2 separate regions of the Homo sapiens genome follow, and region 2 is linked to region 1. Evidence: fine-mapped expression QTL. Tissue or cell type: prefrontal cortex. Region 1 holds a variant in brackets; the other region holds the start of a gene. All regions are shown on one strand. Distances are from middle to middle.

Evidence for each region. PIP is the estimated chance that this variant, and not a neighbour inherited with it, causes the effect.
Region 2: SIVA1 starts here. The variant in region 1 is fine-mapped to the expression of SIVA1 in prefrontal cortex (GTEx, PIP above 0.99).

The regions. Positions count from the first base shown.
Region 1 is chr14:104,396,434-104,404,534 of GRCh38, reverse strand. It overlaps the pseudogene RNU6-684P. Among named protein-coding and RNA genes, the nearest start is that of LINC02691, 180 kb to the right of the region's middle. RefSeq lists enhancers at 329-895, 896-1,462. The variant A/G (reference allele first, on the strand shown) is at 4,881.
Region 2 is chr14:104,749,541-104,757,630 of GRCh38, reverse strand. SIVA1 (SIVA1 apoptosis inducing factor) reads right to left here and starts at 4,484. Exons shown (of 4, transcript NM_006427.4): 1 at 4,312-4,484; 2 at 1,807-2,001; 3 at 871-1,027. The coding sequence starts at 4,429. LOC107987209 (a long non-coding RNA gene) reads left to right here. Exons shown (of 3, transcript XR_001750915.3): 2 at 211-1,225. RefSeq lists enhancers at 4,389-4,458, 4,469-4,518, 4,164-4,665, 5,369-5,458 and a silencer at 4,619-4,988.

The sequences.
Region 1 (8,101 bases):
GTTTTCTTGATATATTTCGGTATTCGATGTTGGACACATAAACATCTAACGTGTGTATCGGCTGTGTATTAGACATCACAACTTTATGGGGTATAATAACTCTTATTAATATAAATTGGTCTGTTTGTCCTTCTTAATGATTTGTGCTTTATTTTCCGCGGATACTAATATTGTCACTCCTTGGCACTTTTTGTCAACATTTGCCGCTGCAAATGCCTACATCAGTCCTTTATTTTTAAGCCGTACATCAAAATGTATTAAGTGTCCCTTGTAAATAACACACAGTTGAGCTCTAATGCGATCCAAGTCTTGCCCTCCTGCTGCCATGGAGCAGAACCTGTGCCAAGCCCCTGCTCCCCCAGCATCCTCTTACTTACTCCTCTGGCTTTTACCCTCAATTCATAAACATGCTTGAGTCTTTTGCATCTGAAGGAAAAACAAAACCAAAGGCCTTTTGACTCCATGTCCTTTGCTCACTGTTAGCAAATCCTCTCACCTCTGTGCTCGCCCAGGCTGAATGTGGTTCTTCCTTCTTCCTTTCTCATTCGCAGGTGCCTCAGAACTGCCCTGTGTCCCCTCTCTGCTCTGGCATTGCTTGGATGCCCCCACCTGTCCTGCCCTTCCTGGGGCCCCCTCACTTTGCTCAGATTCATGGACACGATTGGATGCGATCCTCTAGGGAAGCCATCCCCACCCACATCCCTGGCTCCACGGAAGTTCTGAGCTGCCACCTCCCCGTGGGTCCCATGCGCTATTCACAGCTCTGCAACCACACTGGCCCCCAGTGGACCAGAAACTTCTGAATGCAGGACTGAGCTTTTTGTCTCTGTGCCTGCAGCACTGGGTGAGCATGCAGCAGGATGGGCATGTGTGTGAGCAACACTGGGCAGACATGCTGCAACGTGGCCCGTGTCTGGGAAGCACCAGGCAGGCATGCAGCAGGGTGGGCACATGTCTGAGTTGTACCAGGTGGGCATGCAGCAGGGTCGGCATGGGCCTGGTACCAGGTGGGCATGCAGCAAGGTGGGCACATGTCTGAGTGGTACCAGGGCGGGAATGCAGCAGGGTGGGCACATGTCTGGGCAGCACCAGTCAGGCATACAGTAAAGTGGGCATGTGTGTGGGCAGCACTAGATAGGCATGCTACAAGGTGGGTGTATTAGCCTGTTCTCACATTGCTATAAAGAACTCCCCAAGACTGGGTAATTTATAAAGAAAAGTTTAATCGACTCACAGTTCCGCAGGCTGTCCAGGAAGCATGGCTGGGTAGGTCTCAGGAAACTTACAATCCTGATGAAAGGCAAAGGGGAAGGAGGCATGTCTTCCATGGCCAGAGAAGGAGGAAGGGTGGGGGGAGATGCTGCACACTTTTAAACAACCAGCTCTCCTGAGAACTCACTCACTAGCATGAGAACGGCAAGGGGAAATCCGCCCCCACGATCCAATCACCTCCCACCAGGCCCTCCTGCAACACTGGGGATTACAATTTGACATGAGTTTTGGGCAGGGACACAATCCAAACCATATTATTCTACCCCAGCCCCTCCCAAATCTCACGTCTTTCTCACATGGGAAAACACAATCATCCCTTCTTAACAGTCCCACAGGTCTTAACTCATTTCAGTATTAACTCAAAACTCCACAATCCAAAGTCTCATCTGAGACAAGGCAAGGCCCTACCACCTATGAGCCTGGAAAATCAAAAGCAAGTTAGTTACTTCCAAGATACAATGAGGGTAATGGCATTGGGTAAATACACCCACTCCAAAAGGGAGAAATCCACCAAAACAAAGGGGTCACAGGCCCCATGCAAGTCCAAAACGCAGCAGGGCAGTCATTAAATCTTAAAGCTCCAAAATAATGTCTTTTGACTCCATGTCCCACATCCAGACCACACTGACGCAAGGTGTGGGCTCTCAAGGCCTTGGGCATCTCCAGCCCTGTGGCTCTGCAGGGTACAGCCCCCTTGGCTGCTTTTATGGGGTGCCGCTGAGTGCCTGTGGCTTTTCCAGGTGCGTGGTGCAAGCTGTCAGTACATCTACCATTCTGGGGTCTGGAGGACAGTGGCCCTCTTCTCACAGCTCCACTAGGCAGTGCCCCAGTGGGGACTCTGTGTGGGGCCTCCAACCCCACATTTCCCCTCCACACTGCCCTAGTAGAGGTTCTCCGTGAGAGTTCCAGGCCTGTTGCAGACTTCTGCTTGGACATCCAGGCATTTCCATACATCTTCTGAAATCTAACCAGAGGCTCCCAAACCTCAGCCCTTGCCCTCTGTGTACCCACAGGCTCAACACCACATGGAAGCCACCAACACTGAATGGCTTGCACCTTCTGGAGCCATCATCTAAGACATATCTGGGGCCCTTTGGCCATGGCTAAAGCTGGAGTGGCTAGGATACAGGGAGCAGTGTCCCAAAGTTGTACAGGGCAGTGGAGCCCTAGGCCCAGCCCATGAAACCATTCTTCCCTCCTAGGCCTCCACGCCTGAGATCGGAGGGCTGCCGCCAAAGTCTCTGAAGTGCCTTTTAGACATTTTCCCCATTGTCTTGGCTGTTGACATTCAGCAACTCATGCAAATTTCTGCAGCTGGCTTGAAGTCCTCCCCAGAAAATGGGTTTTTCTGTTTTTAAATCTTTTGAGGAGTCTCATGCTGTCACCCAGGCTGGAATGCAGTGGTGTGATCTTGGCTCACTGCAATCTCTGCCTCCTGGGTTTAAGTGATTCTCGTGCCTTAGCCACCCAAGTAGCTGGGATTACAGATGTGCACCATCACGCCCAGCTAATTTTTGTATTTTTAGTACAGATGGGGTTCCACCATGTTGGCCAGGCTGGTTTCAAACTCCTGGCCTCAAGTGATCCACCCGCTGCAGCCTCCCAAAGTGCTGGAATTACAGGCATAAGCTACTGCACCTGATGGGGATTTTCTTTTCTACTACATGGTCAGGCTACAATTTTTCTAAACTTTTATGCTCTGCTTCCCTTTTATTAATAAATATAAGTTCCAGTTTTAGATAATCTCCTCGCTCATGCATATGACCATATGTTGTTAGAAGTAGCCAGGCCACATCTTGAATGCTTTGCTGCTTAGAAATTTCTTCTGCCAGATACCCTAAATCATCACTGTCATGTTCAAAGTTCCACTGATCCCTAGAGCAGGGTTACAACACCACCAGTCTCTTTGCTAAAGCATAGCAAGAATGACCTTTACTCCAGTTCCCAATAAGTTCCTAATTTCCATATGAGACCTCCTCAGCCTGGACTTAACCGTCCATATCACTATCAGCATTTTGGTCACAACCATTCAACAAATCTCTGGGACGTTCCAAACTTTCCCTCCTCTTCCTGTCTTCTTCTGAGATCTCCAAACTCTTCCACCCTCTTCTCGTTACCCAGTTCCAAAGCTGCTTCCACATTTTCAGGTCTCTTCTCTTCTCTTCCTGGTACTTCCTGGTGCCAATTTTGGCACTGCTATAAAGAACTACCTGAGTGCTCACTTTGGCAGCACATATACTAAAATTGGAATGGTACAGAGAACATTAGCATGGTCCCTGTACAAGGATGACAAAGAAAAATTAAAAGGAAAAAAATTTTTAAAAAAGAACTACCTGAGTCTGGGTAATTTATAAAGAACAGGAGTTTAATTGATTCCCAGTTCTGCAGGCTGTACAGGAAGCATGGCTGGGGTGCCTCAGGAAACTTACAATCATGGCAGAAGGCAAAGAGGAAGGAGGCACATTTTACATGGCCAGAGAAGGAGGAAGACTGGGAAGCAGGAGGTGCAACATACTTTAAAATAACCAGATCTCATGAGAACTCACTATCGTGAGAACAGCAAAAGGGAAATCTGCTCCCATGATTCAGTCACCTCCCACCAAGCCCCTCCTCCAACACTGGGGATTATAATTTGACATGAGATTTGGGTGGGGACACAAATCCAAACCATATCAGTGGGGACTTGCGTGGGCAGCACAGGGTGAGTATGGGGCCAGGTGCACATGTGTGGGCAGCACCGGGTGGGTATGGTGCCAGCTGTGCACATGTGTGGGCTTTGCAGCCAGGCATCCTGGGTTTGAATCTCGGCTTCACTGCTCAGAATTCCAGGACTGGGAGCAAGTCAGGTAAACTGCCCACCTCCTTTCCTTCACCTATGAATAGGGATATATGTAATTTGCATCATCTTTATCGAGTTACTGTGAGTGCCTCATGGGTGGAGTGCCTGATGAGGGCCCCCTGTCGTCACTGGTGATGGTTTTGTTATTATTGTTATTGATTTGCTGGTGGCTGGAGGCATTAGGCACACTGCAGACAAAGGCTGAAGAGGCTGTTTTTTAGTCTGTCTCTGTCGATCTGTTTAGTTCCATCCTTTAGTGAATCTCCACAGCTCTCCCATGTGGTGTGCTTCTTGAGCCCCTGTGAGTCTGCAGTCACCTGCCTTTTGCCCAAGCCTGTGCACGACATCTGGGCTGATGGTGGCATTGTTGAGCCACAACAAAGCCCCATCCACAGCAGCCACAGGGCTGTGTCCCGTTAGAACTAATTATCTCCAGACCACATTCTTCAGATAAGGAGCATTGTTCTTTGACAGCCGAGGATGGAAGTGGTACCTAACATGCAACTACACTGGCTGTGAGGCTGGAGGCCTCAGACCGACTCCTCTGTTGCCTGGGAGATGGACAGGGAGGCCATGGCAGCACGGAGGCAATAGAGGGCTGGGCCTAGACACTGACTGAGAAGTTGATTGGCAGGAGCTGGAGGGCAAAGGTCACAGGAGGAGTGGACTGGGTCTTTGTGCCACCTGTGTTCTCAGCACCACCTCCAGCATCCCCACCCCCACCCCCATCACTCCTGCCATACTAAGAGCTCTCCACCTGCCTACCCTG[A/G]GTGTCCTGAGACCCAGGGGCATTGCTTCCACATCCTGCCACAGGCCATGTGCTTGGATTGGGTGCTTTTAGAGAGAAAGCTGGCGTCAGGCTGAGCTAACTTCCTTTGGATCTTAGATGCCGTGTTAGATCAAGTTTTTCAGAGCAGATGCTGAGCCAAAGATTCAGGTGCAGGTGATTTTCCGAGAAGCTGCTCTCCGGGGAGAAGGGGTGGCGGGAGCAGCGCAGGGAAGATGTCTTACTCTGTTTTGTGTTGCTATAAGGGAATATCTGAGCTTGGATAATTTATAAAGACAACAGGTTTATTTGGCTCACAGTTCTGCAAGCTGTACAGAATTATGTCACTGGCATCTGCTCGGCTTCCGGTGAGGGCCTCAGGTTGCTTCCACTCATGATGGAAGGTGGAAGGGGAACAAGAATGTCACATGATGGGAGAGGAAGCAAGAGAGATAGGAGGAGGTGCCATGCTCTTTTTAACACCAGCTCTTGTGTGAATTAAGAGTGAGAACTCACTCACTACCATGGGGACAGCCCCAAGCCATTCATGAGGGATCCACCCCCATAACCCAAACATCTCCCACCAGGCCCCACCTCCAACATTGGGGATCACATTTCAGGTGAGATTTTATTCAAACCATATCAGAAGGCGCCCCGGCATCAGGATTTGCCATGACAGTGAAAATTGAAGCTACCACGCCCTAAGACCCAGGTTCCAGAACTCACAAGACACCCCTTCTGCCTCATTGGATTGGCCAAAGAAGCCATGAGGCCAGCCTAGAGTCAGGTGGAGGGAAGTGGACTTCCTGGGTGAGTGGCTGCACCCACAGGGAGAGGAGGAGCTGTCCGGATTTATTTGTCACAGGCCACCAAAGCTCTGCCGCCTGTCTCCACTGACACACTCCACACTACTTAACGCTCCACGGCCTAAGTCTCTCAGTTGTTTTGACCTAGTCCTTCACAGCCTGTTCATTTGCCTTTTGGTGGACTAAAATTCATTCTCTATTTATTTATTTAAAAGGAACTTCAGTAGACAAGAGTTCCTCCATTTGTGAATATTTTCAGAAGCGCTTTTTTATGATTCAGCATGAGTAACAGCTTTATTCTGTTCTAAAATTTTACTCTGATATAAAATTCTTGGTTCATACTTTCTTTTCCTGGAGATTTTGCAGGCATTATTTCCCTCTTCTCTAAGATGAGGTGTTGCCGTAGAAAATCTGAAGCCAGCTTGGACTTCTCTTCTCATGTCAGGGCCTTCATATTTTTGCCTCGGTGCCAAACAAATTCTTCGTGTTTGACCCCCAAGTCTCAGTGCTGATCAAGTGCACCAATTTTTGTAGAAACATGATATACCCTCTTAATCCATAGATTTCATCTTTTTTAGTTTCACCACATTTTCTTGAATTATTTGAATTATTTTTCTTTTATATTTGATTTTCTCCTGCAAGGCCACCAATTATGTGTGTGTTGTGTCGGCATTTTGTGTTTTCCTTTTCTATCCTTTCCTCTAAACCATCGCAACTCTTTATTCTTTTCTGGTGAATTTTTTTCACTTTTTCCAAGCTTGACTCCACATCCCTGGCAATGGTTTTAGGAGAATCTATTCTCTTTTTCTTTGATTCTAGTGTGGCCTTCATTTTGTGATTTTTAAAATTCTGCTTCTTTTCTTGAGCTCTGCCTGCCTATTTTTGAAATCTCCTATCATCTTTTTGTTTCTTATTGAAGTCTGTCTTGGCTTTTGTTTTACGTGAAAGACATTTTCATTTAGATCGTTAAGTTTCTGATTGTTAAGAAGGTTTCCATCATCTTCCCCAATGCGAGGATTTTTTGTGTCTTTGCTTTTTACCTTTTCTATTATTTTCTTCCTTTTTCTTGTAATGTTTTCAGTGGACACTATTTTCATTCCTTTCTGTCATTGTTTATTTGTGCATATAAAGTGAGTTCTTCCCGAAACAACTGTCTGCAGTGTGTGGGAGGGCAGTCCTGGGGCGGGGAGCTTCCCTGGCTGGCTGTGCAGCCCCGCAGCCTGGCCTCCGCCTCGCCCTGGAGCAGCGAGGTCACTCGGCAAGGCCTTCACACTCTCAGGGGCTCAGAGTTGTGGGTGCCTCCTGTTTTCCATGAGGATAGAATTCCCATCTCTGTTTCTCATCCTCGGTGACAAAAAGAGAGACAACTTTACTAGAGGTTCACTTTAACAAGTAGCGGACACTTTTTGCTTGGTCGTTTTGTGTGCATGTGTGTTTGTTTCATTTTGTTTGCTACAACAAAAGCAACAACTAAAGAAATAAATACCCTTAATTTCATCACTCTGGAGATCTTTCACAACATTGACGACTCAGACGTCGTCGGTCTTCTCTCCCGGCCTCAGCTGCGGTCAGACTCCAGGTGAGCTGCACCTGGCCGTCTCATTTACGCGGCCTCTCTGGCATTGGATAAGAACTCTATGGCCAACTTACCCAAGAGGTGGTCTGCAATATCTTTGAATACATTAAGACCTGGTGGTCTTATAGAGAAATCTGTAATGATTCATTCACTCGTTGCTACAGACCAAATGTTTCCTATGTGGAAGCTCTGACCCCAATGCGATGGTATTTGCAAGTGAGGCCCCTGGGAGCTGATGAGGCTTAGAGGAGGTCATGAGGGCCCGTGACAGAACATCCTCTCTCTGCTATGAGAGGACACAGCAAGAAGGAGGCTGTCCGGGGACCAGGAAGCAGCCCTCTCTGGAGCCAACCCTGCTGCCACCTTCACCTTGGACTCCCAGCCTCCAGAAATGTGAGGAATGAATGTCCACTGTTAAGCTGCCCCATCTGTGTTGTTTTGTTGTAGTGGCCTGGATGGACTAAGACATTCATTCAATCATTAATTTATTCAAAGATATTGCAGACCACCTTGTGGGTAAGTTGGCCATAGAGTTCCTATCCGATGCCAGAGAAGCAGTGTAATTGAGACGGCCAGGTGCAGCTCACCTGGAGCCTGACCGCAGCTGAGGCAGGGAGAGAAGACAGGCAATGAGCGGGCCAGCGAAGGAAGCTTTCTGTTTCTTTAATGCAGATGAACCAGCGAGGAGAGAAAGGGCCAGGGCAAGGCACTGCTGAGCCGGGCGGGCTGCTGCTCCGTGCTCACTGGGGAATGTTGTTCAGGTGAGTCAGGGCCTCACGCCATGGAGGACATTTACGCAATCCCACCTGACAATGGCTCCCGAAGGAAGAGACAGGTGCACA
Region 2 (8,090 bases), 350 kb before region 1:
TGCAGATGATTCCCAACCTGGATGGGGTGCGTTACCCCACTCCTGCCCATGCTGAAGCCATGGGAGCCGATCACTGGCACGCGGCGCTTCTCCCTGGTGCTGCCCCCCCTGCCCAGGGCTCTCCGTCTCCAATGAGTCTGGGCCTCTGCCCCGACTGAAGAAAGGCTCGAGAGAAAGGACTCGAGATGTAACATGTGGTTTCTATTTTAGATGGACAATTTCAGACATTGTTTGGACTAAGCTTGCTTTGGGTCTATGGAGCCAGTTCCACATGTGTCTGGATGAAGTCATCTTTCTCACGGGGCAGGGCAAACAGGCTCCACACTGTCCACTCCCATCCACCAGGTGAGTAGCCCCTAGGGTGAGAACGCCCCTCCCCACCTTAGGAGTAAGGACGGGATCCAGCCAGCTGCAGCAAACCCACCCACAAATGGGAGACTACACAAACACTCCACTTCCTGCCTGAGAGGGTCTACAACCAAACGGCACGCATGACTGTGGTGAAGCTGCGGTGTGCACCTGTGTCACCAACCAGGGGCTCCTCGGACGGGGGGAGGGGGGGCTCAAAGACCAGAGGAGGAGGAGGTGGGGGTGCTCAAAGATCAGAACAGGAAGTGGCTGAAGACAGGGACTAGAGCCGGATACAGAGCAGGTCATCTGTGAGGTTCAGCTTTCCCTTAGAGAGGATTACTAACCACTAAAGTTGGGCCAAGCATCTATTGCCACCATGTCCCGTTAGGCAATGCCAGATGGCACTGCATCAGGGGCCACACGTGTGTGTTCTGGGCCCACATGGGTGACCCACCCGTCCCCCATCACGGCTTGCTGGGGCTATGGGATCTCAGCAGCTCCAGGGACTGAAGTACTTACTCCACGAGGCCACACAGGGTACAGGCCACGGAGCCGCAGCCCCAGCAGGTGCGCACACACTGCCCGCACAGGGCTCGCTCACACTGACCGCAGACCGCCTTCCCATCCACGGCTCGCACGCATGAGGAACAGGCAATGGACGCTACCCCAGATGGGTCTGTGAGGAAGAAACGCCAAGCCGTCAGGCTGCAAGGAGACTGGAGTTTCCGGGACTGCCGGGCTACCTGCCTCCATGCATACCTGAGGGCAGAGGGCTCTGACCTGCCTACCCCATCCCCACCTACACTGGATCCTTCTGACAACCCGTGAGCCTGGTACAGTGCACAGGACCCCCGTTTTACTACAGAGATCCAAGGTGAGATATGCCTGTAGTTGACTCCAAGTTCAGTGCTCTTTCCCTTACCAGGTCCCTCTGCTACCTGGAGGCTAGTGCTGGAAGGACCATTCTTCCCCTGTTGCTTGTCAGAACTCCATGTGTCCCATCTGGGTCTCAGTGTGGCCCACTGCCTTACTGGTTAACAAAGAGGTGCCTGGGCTCCTCCTAGACACACCAACCAGACTTGAGGTAGAGTCGGGGATTGCATTTCTAACCAGCAACACAGGTGATGCTCTGAGACCCCACACTGCATAGGGATGGGACTGGCATGTTTCCAGCCTTGTGGGACTATCTGAGGGGGCTGCAGGCGGAAAGCAGACGGGATACCCGGGGAGTCTCTGCTGCTTTTTTGGCCCAGTACTTAGAAGCTGTTTAACAACTTCCAGTCTTGAATGTGAGACCTCCTGATAACAGGAGCCTTCTGAGCCAGAAGGCCAAGCTCTGGGTCAGAGTCCTGCTTACCCAGGGAGGAAAAGCCTGACCTTGCAAATCAAGAAAAATGCTCGTGCCACCACCTGCCCTCAGTGCCACAGCCACAAAGGGCTGCTGGTGCCACTCACCAGCTTCGGAGGCCTGCCCAAGGCTCCTGATCAGGCGGCCGTCTGGTCCAATCAGCATCTGCCCACGTGCAGCCCTCGGGGCCCCTGTAGGGCCAGGCTTTGGGGACTCTGGCAGGTGAACGACGGCACAGCCTTCATCCCACACGTGGTCCAGGTAGGCCTGGGCCCCGAGGAACAGGAGTCGCTTGGTCTTCTCTGGGGGAAGATAAATCATTCTCACGTCCTTCACTGTGTACCAACGAAGCCCCTGCATGGCCATTGAGTCTTTCTAGCCTCACATGAACCCCATCGTCCTCCTGTGTGCCCTCTGTCTCCCAGTAACCCCAGCCTGTGTTGTGCCCTGGCGAGCTGGGTCCTGCTCTGCCTCTATGCTGAGAATGCTTGTGCGTCCTTTCCTTACCTGGCTTAGCTGTCATCTCCTCCAGGAAGGCTCTGGCCCTGCAGCCCCACCTGTGTCTGATGCAAGGGTTCCCTCTCCTATCACTCGGCTCATTTTCTGCAATTCACGGCTGGCCTCGCCTCACTAAGCTTGTCCCCTTTCTCCCTTTTCTGCTTCCCCAGCACTCCCCACCTGGAAACCAGGCTCTGTGGAATGCACAGAGGGAGCTCTGCACTGTGGAGCACTAATTCACAAAACTCGTCCCCTGCCAAGGAAGCAGCCAGAGGCTTGGAGCTGGGCCTACAGCCTCTGGCCAGAGCACACCCCCTTCACCTGCTACAGAGTTGCTGGCAAGACAAGCATCCCAGAACCTTCCAGACCTCTTGTTCTAGAACACCCACCCATCCCTGGGAGCAGTGGTTTTCCATCAGGCCACAGTTCAGTCACCTGGGGAGCTTTGAAAAATCAGATGCCCAGGGCCAGACCCAGAAATGCTTTGTTTTTTGTTTTGCACCTCACCATAACACAGTAAAGGCAGAGATCCCAGAAACTCTATGTGGCTCTACATGAAGTGGGCAGCAATAATAGTGACAGGGTAACTCACATGGAGTAGCTGATGCCAGCCCACAACACCCTGCACCTTCCTCCTGGCCCCCCACACCTTCCCCCATCTATAAGGGGAAAGGAATGGGACAGACACGTGGTGAGGCTAATCCTTGTCCTCAAGGCCTTGTGGACAATTCGAGGTTAAGAGATCAGGGTAACAGCTGTGGCCTGGAATTTGGAAACTGTCACACAGTTCAAAGTAGGTGTCCTGCATTTACCATGGAAGGCCCACTGCACCCAGCAGACCTCCCTGACCTGACCCGGTGAGTGGCACACACCTGCCAACGCCCAGGTCAGGACACTCGGGAAGAATAAAGGGCCATACTGAGCCAGGCCCCATTTCCATCTTCCTCTTCTTGCCTGCACAGTGTTTGAATTTTTCAACTGTCCTGAGAGGGCACACGATTGCGGTCCTGCCACAGTTCCCACGGCATCATTCCCCTTACCTCCCCATGGCCCAGAATAGCACTCGCTTTCACAGCCCTAGCACACTGGAGACACCGCACAGAGGAACCTCGGGAGGCAGAGTCTTTCCCTCATTCCCAAGGCACAAGCGGCACCAGGTAAATCACACACCCCGGGTCATCCTCTAACTGCTCTACAGGTGCAGACTTTGTGTCCCAATCACTAGGCAAGGTAAGCTCCACTTTTTACCTGCCCCAGGGTATTAATCACCCCAGTCAGAGTGATGATCAATAAGATCAACACGCCTGAAATCCACAGGAGAAAGCCAGAGAAGGCCTGGGAGCTCACTGCCCTCACATCCCACCCAGAACTGGACACTGCAGCCACACGGAGTCCTATTTCGCTCTCCTGCTGCCTGGCTTCTGCCTCGCCCTCTTCCTTCCCTTCCTCTGCCTGGCTAACTCCTACTCGCCCCCACAGGATTCCGCTCAGACTGTTCTTCCAAGAAGCCTTCCGTGCCATCCCTGCAGGTGCGCCTGCACAAACCTGTGCCTGCCCCGACCACCTGTGGCGACTCCTCCTGCTGGTCTCCCCAACTAGGCTGGGGAGCTCCCGGGAGACGGGGCACATCTGTCTTGCCTGCCTTTGGTCTCCCGAGAAAGCCGCCGTGCCTGGCAGGGCCGCGCGCTCCATGAATACCTCTTGGGACAGGAGGGGCACTCTTCGGGTTGACTCCATGCAGGACGCCCCGCTCCCCAACCTCTCCCAGGACATCCTGCACGGGACAGTCCTGAGAAAGCACCAGGCGGGTGCCGCTCACTGCAGGGCGGCGACTAACCGGGATCGTGGAAGAGGGCGCGGGGGCTAGGGGCAGGGACCCTTTTCTTTCAGGCTGTTGGACAGGGTGGGCGAACGCTGGGGTCCTCACATCCCCCTCACTGACCCCAGCCCTGGGCGTGGCCAGCTTGTGTCCCCGCGGCCTCCCAGCTTCCGGGAACGCGGGGCCAGAAAGCAGGGCCCTCCAGCCCCCCGCTCAGGCCTCAGAGGGGACGCTGAGGCCCGGCCCGTTCCAGGCCCCGACGCAGCGGACCCTCGGCAGCCCGCCCGACACTCACCGAAGACCTCCTGCGAGTAGCGCTCGGCGCACACGCCGCGGCTCAACTCCCTCTGGCTCACGCGGACCTTGAGCTGTAGCGGGGCCACGTCCGCGAAGGGGCAGCTCCGCTTGGGCATGGCCGCGGGGCCGGGAGCTACGCAGCTCCCCGGCCGCCAGCCCCTTACCAACGACGCCGTGACGTCACAGCTGCGCGCCCATCCGCGGGCGAGAGCGGGTTTGAGGAGAGGGAGCGACGCGGCGCGTCATAGGCTGCGGGCGAAGTGGGAGGCGGGACTCCTGCGCGGAGCGGCGCGGGATAGGCCGAGGGAGAGATCGGGGGTGGGACTCGTGCGTCGGTGTACTGGACTCGACGCCGCGGGAAAGGCCAGGGGCCAGGTTGAGGATCAGGGTGGGCGGGTCCGTGGGAGAGATTTGTGCGCGCGCCGCTCAGGATAGGCGGGAGGAGAGACTAGGGGCGGGGTTCCTATGCGGCGCGAAGCGACGAAGGGTGGGAGCCAGGTCGCGGCATTCGGCTGCGCGGGAAGAGCCAGGGGGCGGGGGCGAGGCCGAGGGTCAGGACGGTGCAACGAGGGCGGAGCTTGTGCATCGGGGGCGGGCCTCGTTTGAGGATCGGCGTGGGATAGGCCAGGGCGACGTCGGGGCGGGTCTAGTTTGAGGAGCGGCGCGGGATAGGCCAGGGCAAAGTCTGGGGCGGCTGGGTCGGTGGCGGGATTCCTGTCAGCTTTTGTTTGGTTCCTAAACGGTAGACACTGGTTATAGTTCCTCATTTACTTCTCCGAAGTTAAGAGGCAGCCCGCTTCTTCCTAGCTCTTTTTTCCCCTTTAGAGACAGGGTCTCGCTCTGTCACCCAGACTGAGTGCAGTGGCAGTCTCGGCTCACTGTAGCTTGCGCCTCCCGGGCTCAGGCGATCCTCCCTTCTCGGCCTCCCCGGTAGCTGGGACCGCAGGCGCGCGCCTCCGCGCCCCGCTTTTTGGTTTTGGGTAGGAACGGGGGTTTTTCTGTGTTGCCTCAGCTGGCTTAGCTCCTCACTGTGGCGGTCTCCGCCTTCCAGAAGTAAAGGCGTGTGGGGGCTGCGCTCTGAGGGCCGCGTGCGGCTGCCGAGCGCCCCCGGGCGGGGGTATGCGCCGCTGTGTGGAAAATGTTCTTGCACAGCGGGTTCGTCTGACTTGGTGTCCCCATGCCGCGAGGTGCACCCGCGTCGTCCCTTCTCCGGGGTTCTGCTCACCAGAGGCGGCTCTCCCCTGCCCCGGCGGGTACAGAACCGACCCGTCCTGTGGCGTGGGCTTCGCCCTGTGAGAGATGACAGCGTGCTGGCAGCCCTCGCTCGCTCTCGGCGCCCACTCTGGCCGCGCTCGAGGGGCCCTTCAGCCCGCCGCTGCACTGTGGGAGCCCCTCTCTGGGCTGGCCGCGGCCGGAGCCGGCTCCCTCAGCTTGCAGGGAGGTGTGGAGGGAGAGGTGCGGGCGGGAACCCGGGCTGCACGTGGCGCTTGCGGGTCAGCGTGAGTTCCGGGTGGGCGTGGGCTCGGCGGGCCCCGCAATCGGAGCCACCGGCCCCAGGCAGTGAGGAGCTTAGCACCCGGGCCAGCAGCTGCGGAGGATGCGCCGGGTCCCCCACCAGTGCCGGCCCGCCGGCGCTGCGCTCGAATTCTCACCGGGCCTCAGCTGCCTCCCCGCGAGGCAGGGCTCAGGACCTGCAGCCCGCCATGCCTGAGTCTCCCCCCTGCCGTGGGCTCTTGCGCGGCCCCCTGCTCCGCGGCACCCGGTCCCATCGACCGCCCAAGGGCTGAGGAGTGCGGGCGCACGGCGCGGGACTGGCGGGCAGCTCCACCTGCAGCCCCGGTGTGGGATCCACTAGGTGAAGCCAGCTGGGCTCCTGAGTCTAGCGGCGACTTGGAGAACCTTTATGTCAAGCTAAGGGATTGTAAATACACCAATCAGCACTGTGTTTAGCTCAAGGTTTGTAAACTCACCAATCGGTACCCTGTGTCTAGCTCAAGGTTTGTAGATGCACCCATGGGCACTCTGTATCCAGCTAATCTGGTGGGGATTTGGAGAACCTTTATGTCTAGCTGTGGGATTGTGGACGCACCAGTCAGCACTCTGTGTTTAGCTCAAGGTTTGTAAATGTACCAATCAGCACTCTGTATCTAGCTAATCTGGTGGGGACTTGGAGAACCTTTATGTCTAGCTAAGGGACTGTAAATACACCAATCAGCACTCTGTGTCTAGCTCAAGGTTTGTAAAGACACCAATCAGCACCCTGTATCTAGCTCAAGGTTTGTAAATGCACCAATCAGTGCTCTGTGGGGACTTGGAGAACTTCTGTGTCTAGCTCAGGGATTGTAAACACACCAATCAGCGCCCTGTCAAGACGGACCAATCAGCTTTCTGTAAAACAGACCAGCCCTCTGTAAAATGGACCAATCAGCAGGATATGGGTGGGGCCAGATAAGGGAATAAAAGCAGGCCGCCCGAGCAGGCAGTGGGAACGTGTTGGTGTTCTGCCACATGTTTGGGGCTTTGCTCTTTCACTCTTTGGGTCCACACTTTTTATGAGCTGTAACACTCACTGGGAAGGTGTGTAGCTTCACTTCTGAGGCCAGCAAAGCCACAAACCCACCGGGAGGAATGAACAGCTCCAGACACACTGCCTTAAGAGCTGTAACACTCCTTGTGAAGGTCTGCAGCTCCACTCCTGAAGCCAGCAAGACCGTGAGTCTGCCAGAAGGAACAAACTCCAAACACGTCCAAACATCAGAAGGAACAAACTGCAGACATAACAATTTTAAGAACTGTAACAGTCAACTGTGAGGACCTAGTGCTTCATTCTTAAAGTCAGTGAGATCAAGAACCCACCAATTCTGGACACACCTGGACTATGTTCTCACGACTCCATCGGTGTTGCCTCCGGTGTGAAGAGGTGATGCCTGGAGTCCCGCAAACCCCTCCCACGTGACTCCCGTGTTGCAGCTGCCCACGCCCCCTCAGAGGCAGTGTATGCTTTCCTAGCCATGGGTGGCTGAAACCTTACCAGTCTCCAGCTTAGATGTCCTTTCTCCTCCTGCCGTGCAGGGTTCCCTGTGGTGGGGATGGGATCAAGCATTCTTGGCTCTTCCTTGCCACTTTGCTGGCATAATGGAGAATTTTTTCTGCCTTAGGGAAATGACTTGAAAGTTACTCAGTTGGAGTCACGTGTGACTAAACACAGATTTGGTTTATCCCAGAAATAGATGAAGTTCTCAGAGAGGAGGATTGTTTTCAATCTTATGGATCGTGGGGATTTCTAAAGATTTCCCTGTGTTCAGACTTGCAACTCTCCTAGGGTCTCATCACCATCGTGGACAGATACAGAACATCGGGCAGCTTATGGAGTGGGGCTGTCCCCCAGGCCACATGCCGGTTCCTCAGAGGTTGCTGGGTAGGATTCTGCTGCTTTAACAAACTTGCCTGGCTAACACCACTGGCTCACCCTTGAATGCCTTCCTGGGTGAAGCCATGAACCCTCCAGGGTTAAGCCCCAATTTTGGGGCTCACCTGCCCTGCATCAGATTGATGGTTAACTTGTAAAGAAACTGGCAGCTTTCCAGAGTGCTAGGAAAAAGGAAAATTATCATTAAACAAAATCATTGTCATAGTTTTCCTCTAATTCGTCTTGAGGTCTCTCCTGGAGAGTGGCTGTAAACTTTGGCCCTTCCCTGATGGGGCTCTGGGGGCGGTGGGCATGGGGTTACAGTGTGTGCTCTCGTGGGATGCCTCCTGACCCTGGCTGATGGCCTC